Regions from separate parts of the Homo sapiens genome. Here region 2 is reported to be linked to region 1. The links are microRNA targets in miRTarBase. Many come from high-throughput screens and were not tested one by one. Region 1 holds a microRNA gene; the other region holds the end of a gene's coding sequence.
What was found. Region 1 holds the annotated microRNA hsa-miR-3622a-5p (CAGGCACGGGAGCUCAGGUGAG, at 3,573-3,594, shown strand). A microRNA usually pairs through its seed, bases 2 to 8, with sites in the 3' UTR of a target mRNA and lowers its output. Matches are read on the target gene's strand: a 7mer-m8 pairs with bases 2 to 8, a 7mer-A1 pairs with bases 2 to 7 and ends in A, and an 8mer does both.

Region 1 (5,528 bases):
TGAAAGCTCACAGAATTCATAGCCAGTATATCTGTACTATAAAAATTGCTAAAGGGTATTCTTTATATTAACAGGAAACAGAAACTTGGATCTGCAAGAAGGAGTGGAGAGCAGCAGAAGTGGTAAATTAGAACGTAAATATTAAAATGCATGGATTTTTTTCTCTCTGAATTCTCTTGAGAGACAACTGACTATTGTAAGGGAAGATTATTTTAAGACTATTTTAAGATAAGACTGGAGATTGGATTTATAATGTGTCAAGTTGATATGACAACAAGAGCACCAGGGATAGCTAATTGCAAATTTAATGGTGGAAGTCTAAATGTTTTCCCTTATAAACCAGAAATAAGGCAAGGATCTCATCTCCCAACACTTTTATTCTATTTGACTAGAGGTCCTCCCCAACGAAATAAGACAAACAAAGAAATACATATTGGAAGGAAAAATATAAAGCTGTATTTATTCACAGACAGCATAGTTGTTTGTATAGAAAATCCTAGGGAATTTACAAGAAAATGGCAATTATTAAAAAGTGATTTACCAATATCATAATATAGAAGGCCAATATACAAAAACCCATTGCATCTCTATATACTAGGAGCAAAAAATAAGAAAATTAAAATTAAGTAATCATTTAGCAACAGCATAAAAATATAAAATATATAGGAATGAATTTAGTAAAGGATGGGCATGATCTTTATAGTAAAAAGTACAGAATATTGCTGAAATTTTTAAATATCTTTATAAATGGAGATATATATATATAGTGGTATCTATCTATCTGTCTATCTATATATATATCTCATGTTCATGTATAAGAAAACTCACATTAATAAGACGTTCATGGCTGGGCACAGTGGCTCACGCCTGTAATCTCAGCACTCTGGGAGGCCGAGGCAGGTGGATCATGAGGTCAGGAGATCGAGACCATCCTGGCTAACATGGTGAAACCCTGTCTCTACTAAAAATACAAAAAATTAGCCGGGCATGGTGGCGGGCGCCTGTAGTCCCAGCTACTTGGGAGGCTGAGGCAGAAGAATAGTGGGAACCCAGGAGGCGGAGCTTGCAGTGAGCCGAGATTGCGCCACTGCACTCCAGCCTGGGTGACAGAGCAAGACTCCGTCTCAAATAAAAATTAAAAAAAAAAAAAGACGTTCATTTTCCTATATTCTTTTACATATCCTACACACTTCCAATCAAAATCCCAGCAGCCTTATTTTTCTTTCTTTCTTTTTTGTAAATGACAGAGTCTTGCTCTGTCACCCAGGCTGGAGTGCAGTGGCATGATCATAGTCCACTGCAGCCTTGACCTCCTGGGCTCAAGTGACCCTCCCACCTCAGCTTCATGAGTTGTTGGGATTACAGGCGTAAGCCACTGTGCCAGGCCTCGGCAGCCTTGTTTTTAAAGACACTGACAAAACTGATTCTAAAAATGTATATAAAAGTGCAAAGGATCTAGAAAATCCACAGAATTTTGAAGAAGAGTTCAGTTGGAGGGCCTATACTACATAATATCCAGACGTTCTCTAGGTCTGTCATGGAGGCTCACACCTGCAATCCCAGCACTTTGGGAGGCTCAGGCAGGAGGATCACTTGATCCCAAAAGTTCCAGACCAGCCTAGACAATATAGTGAGACCCCAACTCTACAAAAAATAAAAATTTAAAATTTCAGAAAGAAAAAAAAAGACTTACTCTAAAGCAGCAGTAATTAAGACAATGAGATAATGGTGTAAGGACAGACATATAGATCAATTGAACCACATTGAGATCCAGAAATAGATTTACACATATATATCAATTGATTTTCCCCAAAGACACCAATGATTTCAAAGTCTTTTCAACAAATGATTTTTATATGCAAAAAACAAACTTTGATATTACCTCATATAATACACAAAAATTCATCTGATATGGACCACAAACCTAAATGTAAAAACTAAATCTATAAAACTTCTTAAAAAATACATAAGATAATTTTTGTGACTTTAAGAAATATGGTCATGAAAGTCACAAACCATAAGAGAAAAATTTTGATAAATTGGATTATATCAAAATTAAAACCCTCTATTCTTTAAAATATCCCTTTAAGAACATGAAAAGAAAAAAAATCCCAGAATAAGAGAAAATATTTGCAATACATATATGAGACAAAGGACTTGCTTTCAGGATACATAAAGAACTCATACATCTCAATAAGAAAAAGACATGCAGCTCAAATTAAAAATGGATGAAAGTCCCAGCACTTTGGGAGGCCGAGATGGGCAAATCACTGGAGGCCAGGAGTTCAAGAACAGCCTGGCCAACATGGTGAAACCCTGTCTCTACTAAAAATACAAAAATTAGCTGGGCATGGTGGTGGGCTCCTGTAGTCCCAGCTACTTGGAAGGGTGAGGCAGGAAAATCACTTGAACCCAGGAGGTGGAAGTTGCAGTGAGCTGAGATCACACCACTGCACTCCAGCCTAAGCAACAGAGCAAAACTCTACCTCAAAAATAAAAAAAAAAAAAAAGATGAAAGACATGAACAGACATTTTGCAAGAAAAGTATATGAATGACCATGTAAGCACATGAAAAAGTGTTCCAGCTTCATTAATCATCAGGGAAATGCAAATGAAACCACTCTGAGATACCACTAGAATGGCTAAAATTTCAAAAACCAACAATACAAAATGTTGTGAGGATGTGGAGCAACGAGAACTCTCATGCATTAATGGTGAAACTGTGAAGTGGTACAACCCTTTTGGAAAAGTTAGGTGATTTCCTATAAATCTGAACACATACTTAACCTATGATCCAGCAATTTCACTTCTGGGTTTTTACCCAAGAGAAATGAAAATGTTTTTCTATACCAAAATTTGTACATACTATTCACAACAGCATTGTCCAGAATAGCAAAAAACTGGAAACAAGTCAAATGTTCATCAATAGGCAAATGCATGGAAAAATTATGATAAATCCATACTCACCAGTAAAAAAAAAACAAAAAAACTAGTGATATGCAAACCAACTTGGATAAATCTCAAAAGCACATTGAGTAGAGGAAGTCACTCAAAAGAGTACAGACTGTATTATTCCATTGAGATGATGTTCTAGAAAAACTAAAATGAATCTATAGTTACAGAAATCAGGTAAGTGGTTACCTGGGATGGGATGGTTAGGATGGGATTAACTACAAAAGAGAAATAGGGAAGTTTCTGGGGTGCTATAAATATTTTGATTGATTTAACAGTTACTGAGTGTATATATTTGTTAAAATTCATCAAAGTCTACATTGAAGTGTATGCATTGTATTATATGTAAATTATGCCTCAGTACAGTAGATTTTTTTAAAATGTTCTCGTAGCTCCCCATTGAACACAGGTGTCATCATGGCAAGACATTTCCTAGCTGAGAGATGCTTTTTCATTCTTTCATTCAAAAAGTAGCTTTTTCTTTCCTTCCTTCCTTCCTCTCTTTCTTTCTCTTTCTCTCTTTCTTTCTTTTCTTTCTTTCTCTTTTTTTTAGTGGCAAGGTCTTGTTTTGTCACCCAGGCTGGAGTGCAGTGGTGTGATCATAGCCAATAGAGGGTGCACAGGCACGGGAGCTCAGGTGAGGCAGGGAGCTGAGCTCACCTGACCTCCCATGCCTGTGCACCCTCTATTATATCACTCGTATGTCTACCATTGTTTGCAGATCGTGAGCTGCTTGATGACTGATGCTAGGGTGACCAACCAACCAAGTATGCCCCAAACCAAAGGGTTTCCTGGGCTTCCTGAGCTAAGGGATGTTCAGTGCTAAAACTGGGAGGCCCAGGCAAACGGGGAAAATGGGTCACCTTATCTGAGACCTTGTGCTACTCATCTCTGAAAGCATTCCCAGGCTTAGCCCCCTATCAGGTGGGTGATGTATGCTCAGTAAATGTTTCCTGAAAGGCTAGAATATGTGTGAGTAGGACACTTGAAATTCTCCTTTGGTTTCCCATGCAAACTGAGTCCTACAGTGAGAAAGCCAAGCGTAGTGGCAGATCCTGCCCCAGACACCAGGCTCGCTTGGGTCCTGCCTAGGGCGCCAGCCTCTCTCCCATGTCATTGGTGTTCTGGAAAGCAGATAAACAACTGACTTCAAGTCCTATTTAAGTTTTATGGGGTAGCCAAGGTCTTCCAGGGCTCCATCTCCAGGAAGCCCCCTCCCTGCAGCCTGGCTGGCTTTTCTTCTTCTTCTGGTGAAGTCATCCGACCCCAAGTGGCCCACAGTTTCCTTTCTCTCCACACCTCCCAAACCCGCTGCCCAGTCCTGGCACTGCCTGGGGTTACTGCTGACCTTTCAGTGCTGTTTGCTCAGAAAGTGCCTTTATGTCAACACAAACAGCCTTCAGGTTTGCCAGGGCCTGGCTCCTTTTCTCCCTGGGGTCCAGGGTAGAAAAACAATAACCAGTGGGAAGGAGAGCGAGCCATAGGGGAGTGACGCGTCCCTGGACCTTGGGTCTCTGTCCTCTCAGCCCTGTCCCTCAGGGCCTCCTTTGTCAGAACTCAGTTCTGTGGGGAGAGGGTACTGGGGAGGCAGCGGCTTTAAACAATGCCACAGTGTCTGGCAGGGAGCTGCGTGCTTGACCTGATTAGGCTCAGTGAGCCCGGGGGAGGGAGGGAGTGAAGGCAGGCTTGGGAAAGTGTTTTCCATCCCCACCCAACAGACTTTGCTTCCTTGTATCTCTGCCAAGACCTCTTTTTGGGGAGGAAAGGCCGAATCGCCTCATTTCTACAGGGGCACCTTGGCCTCGCTCCTCTAAACCTGGGTAAGCTCTTTGACCTGCCTGTCCCCCTCCCTCTTGTCTTTCCTTCCCACCAACCAGCTCCCAAACAGAAAGTGTTTTTCACACTCGCAGCTCTCCCTCCTCAGGCCCTGCCAGGCCCGAAGCTGGGCCCAGAGGCCAGCTGGCACCCACATGAAAGGCCTTCCTGTCGAGAACTGGCATGGAACCCAGGGCCTCAAGGCTGCCCACACCACAGCCCTGGCCCAGGGTCCAGAGCACAGGGCCACGGAAACTTGGCCACAAGGCTCTGGGGAGAAAAACAGCCTGAGCCGCACAGGAGAGGAGCCTCCCATCCCCGCAGCCTGGCTGGGCACATCAAGGGAGAAAGCGCAGTGCCCAGAATCCTTTGAACATGAAGCCGCAGCACCTGCACCTGGCAGAGGACCCGGGAACCAGGGATTCGTGCTGGGGGCAGCACTTGGGGTTTGTTAGTGCAGGTGGAGAGAAAACAGGAGAGTAGCAATTTCCAACCCATCAGCAGAAAAAAGTGAAAGCTGAGAAGTCAGGGTGAGGCTGGAGGGGACAGGATGGGGTGGCTGGGTGGGCCCAGAATTGAGATCTGATTTGCAAAATGGTGGCAAAAGGCAACAGACTGCGGCTCCCTTGAGAGAAAAACCTGGTCTCCCAACCGGCAATGGGTGTGGTTATCAAACGCACAGCCATGCCTGTTCCCAGGATGCAGGTGCAGTCTGGATAAACTGAGACTAGGGTTGGGGGGGATCTGTTCAAGGTTGCACA
Region 2 (5,000 bases), not on the chromosome of region 1:
TCAAATATTGTGACCTTTTTTGTGTGATGTTCTCTGTATCTAGAAACAACTCATCCAGGGCATGAGAGTTAGATAAGCCCTGGGAGATAACCTCATTCCATTCCTTTTTTTTTTTTTTGGAGACAGAGTCTTGCTCTGTCACCCAGTCTGGAGTGCAGTGGCATGATCTTGGCTCACCGCAACCTCTGCCTCCTGGGTTCAAGCAATTCTCCTGCCTCAGTCTCCCGAGTAGCTGGGATTACAGGTACCCACCACCACACCTGGCTAATTTTTGTATTTTTAGTAAGAGACGGGGTTTCCATTATGTTGGTCAGGCTGGTCTCAAACTCCTGATCTCAGGTGATCCACCAGCCTTGGCCTCCCAAAGTGCTGGGATTACAGGCGTAAGCCACCGTGCCCAGCCATCATTCCATTCCTTTACAATTGAGGATGTGGCAGCTAAGAGGGAAAGGTCTTCCATCAAGCAGTGGCAGGGCTAAGGCCAGATGATGCCCTCCCACTGGGTCTCTGGCTTGTGAATGTGGCTGGGGTGGTGGGTCAGAGAGGAAGGGGATCTAGGTGGTGTACTGAGAACCTGTGGGTTGATTGCATCATGCATCAAGTCAGTTCCTGTGATGAAGGAGACCAAAATTTAGCTATGACGCTGGGGTGAGGCAGTTAGCTGAGCTTTGCCCTTGGTCACAGACGGAACCTCCAGTACCGAAAGCAGCTTTCACTGGCAGGGAAGTCAGAAGACGGAAATGACATTTCGTGTCCTGACAGCCCTTCCCACATTTTTGGTAGAGCACTTCACACACATTCTTTCCCTTGGGCCTTATGACAACTCTGTGCGTTACTATGGGCCTGGAAGACTATCAAGGACCCTAGTTCTGGAGGGAAGGACACTGAGAAGAGGCAGGAGAGGTGGTGGTGAGAAAAGGCAGGAGAGGTGGTGGTGAGGAGAGGTGGTGGTGAGGAGAGGTGGTGGTGAGAAGAGTTCGTGGTGACCAGCCTGTGGCACACTTTATATGGCCTTCCTGGAACCACAGTCTTATTCTCAGGTTCCAGATGAGGACACAGGCTCAGTCCCCATGGCTGTCAAGTGGCAGAGCCAGGATTTAACCCAGACCTCCTGGCTCCTAAGTCCATATGCGGTTGGTGGGAGTGTAAATGGATATAGTCCTTATAGGAAGCCAATTTGGCAAAATCTAACAAAATTAAATACATACCTTTTTGACCCTCAAATTCCACACTTAGGAATCTACCCAACATTTATACTGGAACATATTTTTTTTTTTTTTTTTTGAGACAGAGTTTCACTCTTGTTCCCCAGACTGGAGTGTAATGGCACAATCTCAGCTCACCGCAACCTCTGCCTCGCAGGTTCAAGCGATTCTCCTGCCTCAGCCTCCAGAGTAACTGGGATTACAGGCATGAGCTACCATGCCCAGCCAATTTTGTATTTTCGGTAGAGACTGGGTTTCTCCATGTTGGTCAGGCTGGTCTCAAACTCCTGACCTCAAGTGATCTGCCCGCCTCGGCCTCCCAAAGTGCTGGGATTACAGGCATGAGCCACTGCGCCCGGCTGAACACATTTTTATGTAAACAAGCAGTGTGTACACTTAAGAGTCTTATGCACAGGATAATGTCTGGAAAAATGCTTACTGCATGTCCCCAGCTCCAGGAAAGAGGAGAGCTTGTGGGGCCCTTCCCCAAACAGGCTGTGTCCTGGTCCTCAGTGTGGCTGGCTGGAAGCCAGGGGGACTCAGCCTTTGACTAAGAATGCTCCATCCACCCCTGGGACCGAGAAAATCTCCTTTCACACAATTCATTACTCCTTAGGGTGGAGGTTTAGGAAAGGGGAGAGGCATCCAGAATGCCCGCTTCCTGGAAGCCAGTGGTCACATCCGGCAAGGGGACTTCAGTGACCTTCCTCTCACCCCTCCAGCAGCAGAATCAGAGCTCCCTCCTCAGCTGCCTCTATGCTATCTGCCCCTCCCTTCTAGCACATGTCCCACAGTACTGTCCTCACGTATTTCTTTTTTTTCCCATGGGAAAAGCAAAGACCGTAACCTATTTACTGCCATCTCTAGTACCCAGGATATTACACCTAGCACATGGGGGCTTCAGGGACTGTCTGTCTCATAGATGGATTAATTTACTTTCTCCTCTCTCTGTCTGTTAGCTGGTTTAAAGGAGGGCCCAGGAATGTTTTTATAAGAAGCATGGGCCTTTTGGAAAGGTCTGTTTACCCAAACCTTTCTATATTAAAACTTAGAAAACATAATTCCATTTTTTTTATTATTCAACATTTTATACATAATAAATACAAACTTTTTACAGCCACTGTAAAGAAAGCACATCTGCACAGAGGCTCCCTCCGAGCCCTGACCTGTGCACTGTGGTGCTGGATTCCATATCCTGGATGGAGGGGTTATTTTTTAAAAAGGAGGCATGTTTTCACAACTTTGTTTTTTAAAATAAAATTAGCAGCTCTTCCAAAAAATATTTTAAAATACAACAAAAGATTTCAAATAACCCTTTGAGGTTGTGGAAAACCCAAATTCAAGGACAATTTGGCTAGCTAAAGACAGAATACAAGACTGGGTGGCAAGAACTGCTCTATTTAATAAGCATTTGAAGATTTTTAATATGTTAGCAAACTTTAAAATCTTAAAAAAACCACCCTTTTAATTTCTTTTTTAAACTTAAGAATAAGTTTGATAAACACAAAAGACCTCAAATAGATCAACAGGTTAAGAAGTGTAAAAAACAACAACGAAAAAAAACCCCAAATCATGGAGAAGATTCATTAATGGGTATTGTCACTGAAGTGATCAAAGAACTAAAAATTTCTTCAGTTATCACCTTACTTTTGGTCAAAAATCCCATGGGGACATTTGGCGAGCATTTCAAGTTTTTTAAGATTCTTAGGAGGGATGGAGTTTTCAAAGCATAATACAACTTGTAGATTAAATTCTGCAAATTTGATTTCTTAACCAAGGAAAAAAAAAAAAAACAAACCACAACCGGCGAACATCCCTTAGTCCCTAGGTATTGTGCTCCCTACCTTCTACAGGAGCGGACAGCAGACAGTCAGCACCTGACGTGGGGGCACCTGCTGCTGCAGGCTTGCTGGCCTGCAGAGAAGGCCACTCCTGGCTTTCCCTGTGACACACAGAAGACACTTGTCTTTTCCTGGTCAATCTGTACTTGTGCAGGGTGCGCAATCCTTCAGTCCTTTCTCATAGAAAGCTGGTTTCCTCCACGAGCCACCAGGTTCTTCCTTCCACGGAAATGTCAGGGTAGTGGGACCTGGAAGCTGCATTTTCCACCATAGCAGTTGGTCTGGACCAGCCACAGCCTGGCTGTCTGGGCCGGTCTGCTGGCTTGGGAATAAAATAATGCCGGGGCGTCCCCAGTAGAGAAGCTCAACAATGCAGGTATGTGTCCTCAACTTATCTAGACATTTGGATTCTAAGGATACTGGTAAGAAGAGTATATGCTGTAAAAATTAAGATGAAAAATACCCAAATACAAAAGAACATTATATTGGCTAATTTCAGATCCGGAAGTTCCATTTCTGCTTTAGCCACAGCCTCCTTTCTATTAGTCTATGTGATGAACAAGATGTGGCTACTAGTTCAGCCCCTCCATATTAGCTCTGCTAATTCTAAATGAATGGCACAGATATTAATACGAAGGACACTGTTATTTTAAGTCTGTTAGTTGTGGAAGAGATGTGCGTTAATGCAATTGGTGCTAAATTCAGGGCAGTCCAATTTTTCCCAATAAGGTTTCACTTTCTCAGTCTGGGGACTAACCTTGGGGAGGAGCCAGCCTCTCCTGAAATCCCTCCTTCTGTTTCCTTATGTAGCCAACATGATCTGATTAATTCTCAATCAGATGAGCAAAAGCCACTTGAAGAAAGATGAGAATCTTTGCCACATCCTTGTGGTCACAGTAATATACTGTACGAGTGCACATGATCAGTAATTTAGGGACTGTGCCCTGGAATGAGGCCTGTTCTTGAGTCTCATATAAAAACAGACCACTGTTAGGCATGAGGGCTGCCCCCCTCTTTGCTCCTAGGGTCCGCTAGGATTTGTGCTATGGTAGGAGAAATGACATAGAAAATGACAACAAAAAAAAAAGGCACGAAATATTCAAAACGTGGGAGGAGTCTACCAGGCCACCCAGTCACACATAATCCTCCTTGTTTTTTGCTCTGTTCAAGAGTCATCATCATGCAAAGGTGCCTAAAAAACAAGACTGGCCAAACTCCAAGCCTGGCCTTGATTGTAGCAGTAATGGATGGGCAAGCCCATCATCACACCAGTGTGATTTCCACATCTTCAATCTTCTCTGCTGGCCTTCGGTGATTCTGTGTAGGTGGAGGGGGAGCTGCCCGGACCTGAGCAGGAAACAATTACGTAGTTTGTCAGTCAGTTCCTGACTCAGTATCTGAAGCATCCCCAAAACCTAATCACTCATCTGTCCAAGGACATGGGCACCCTAGGGGTCTCAGAAATGTTGTGAGCACGTGCTTTCAACCTAGTCTTCACTATTTCCTACACTGAGAAGCAGTTGTTCTCAATGAAATATCAAGCCCACAAATCAGCTTCTTGCCTAGGCTAAAAACCTCATGGGCACAAGTCCTATGACTAAGATCCTAGCACATCCTCCAAAGCAAAGGTCTGGCTGGAAGCAAGGGAGAGCAATGCTTAGAGAAATGAAACATTTCAGTGTGTCTTGGGTAGAGAGTTACAAAAGAGAAGGCTAGAAAGGTAGGCTAGGGTTAAGTTGTGAAGGGCCTTGTTAAACCATGTTTAAACATCTGCTTTAAGAAGAAAAAAATAAATCTGTGCTTTATTCTGTAGGCAAAAGAGGAGTTTTTGGTGGATTTTAAGCAATATCAGATCTGCGAAAAGATGACTCAGGTAACAACTGGAGAAAGGATCAGAGGCAAGCAAGAGTCCAAGTAAGAAGGCAACTTAGGAGACTTTTGTAATCCTCTGAAT

Region 2: the mRNA of FCHSD2 is a reported target of hsa-miR-3622a-5p. Seed matches in the 3' UTR shown: 7mer-m8 at 4,133-4,139.

The regions. Positions count from the first base shown.
Region 1 is chr8:27,698,118-27,703,645 of GRCh38, forward strand. It overlaps MIR3622A (microRNA 3622a), which reads left to right and starts at 3,560; the gene lies at 3,560-3,642. It overlaps MIR3622B (microRNA 3622b), which reads right to left and starts at 3,650; the gene lies at 3,556-3,650. It overlaps LOC124901920 (a long non-coding RNA gene), which reads left to right and starts at 2,853. Exons shown (of 2, transcript XR_007060869.1): 1 at 2,853-5,528. It also overlaps a transcript of SCARA3 not described here. RefSeq lists a silencer at 5,017-5,162.
Region 2 is chr11:72,834,482-72,839,481 of GRCh38, forward strand. FCHSD2 (FCH and double SH3 domains 2) reads right to left here. Exons shown (of 20, transcript NM_014824.3): 20 at 2,264-4,393. The coding sequence ends at 4,310. It also overlaps a transcript of ATG16L2 not described here. Among named protein-coding and RNA genes, the nearest start is that of ATG16L2, 23 kb to the left of the region's middle.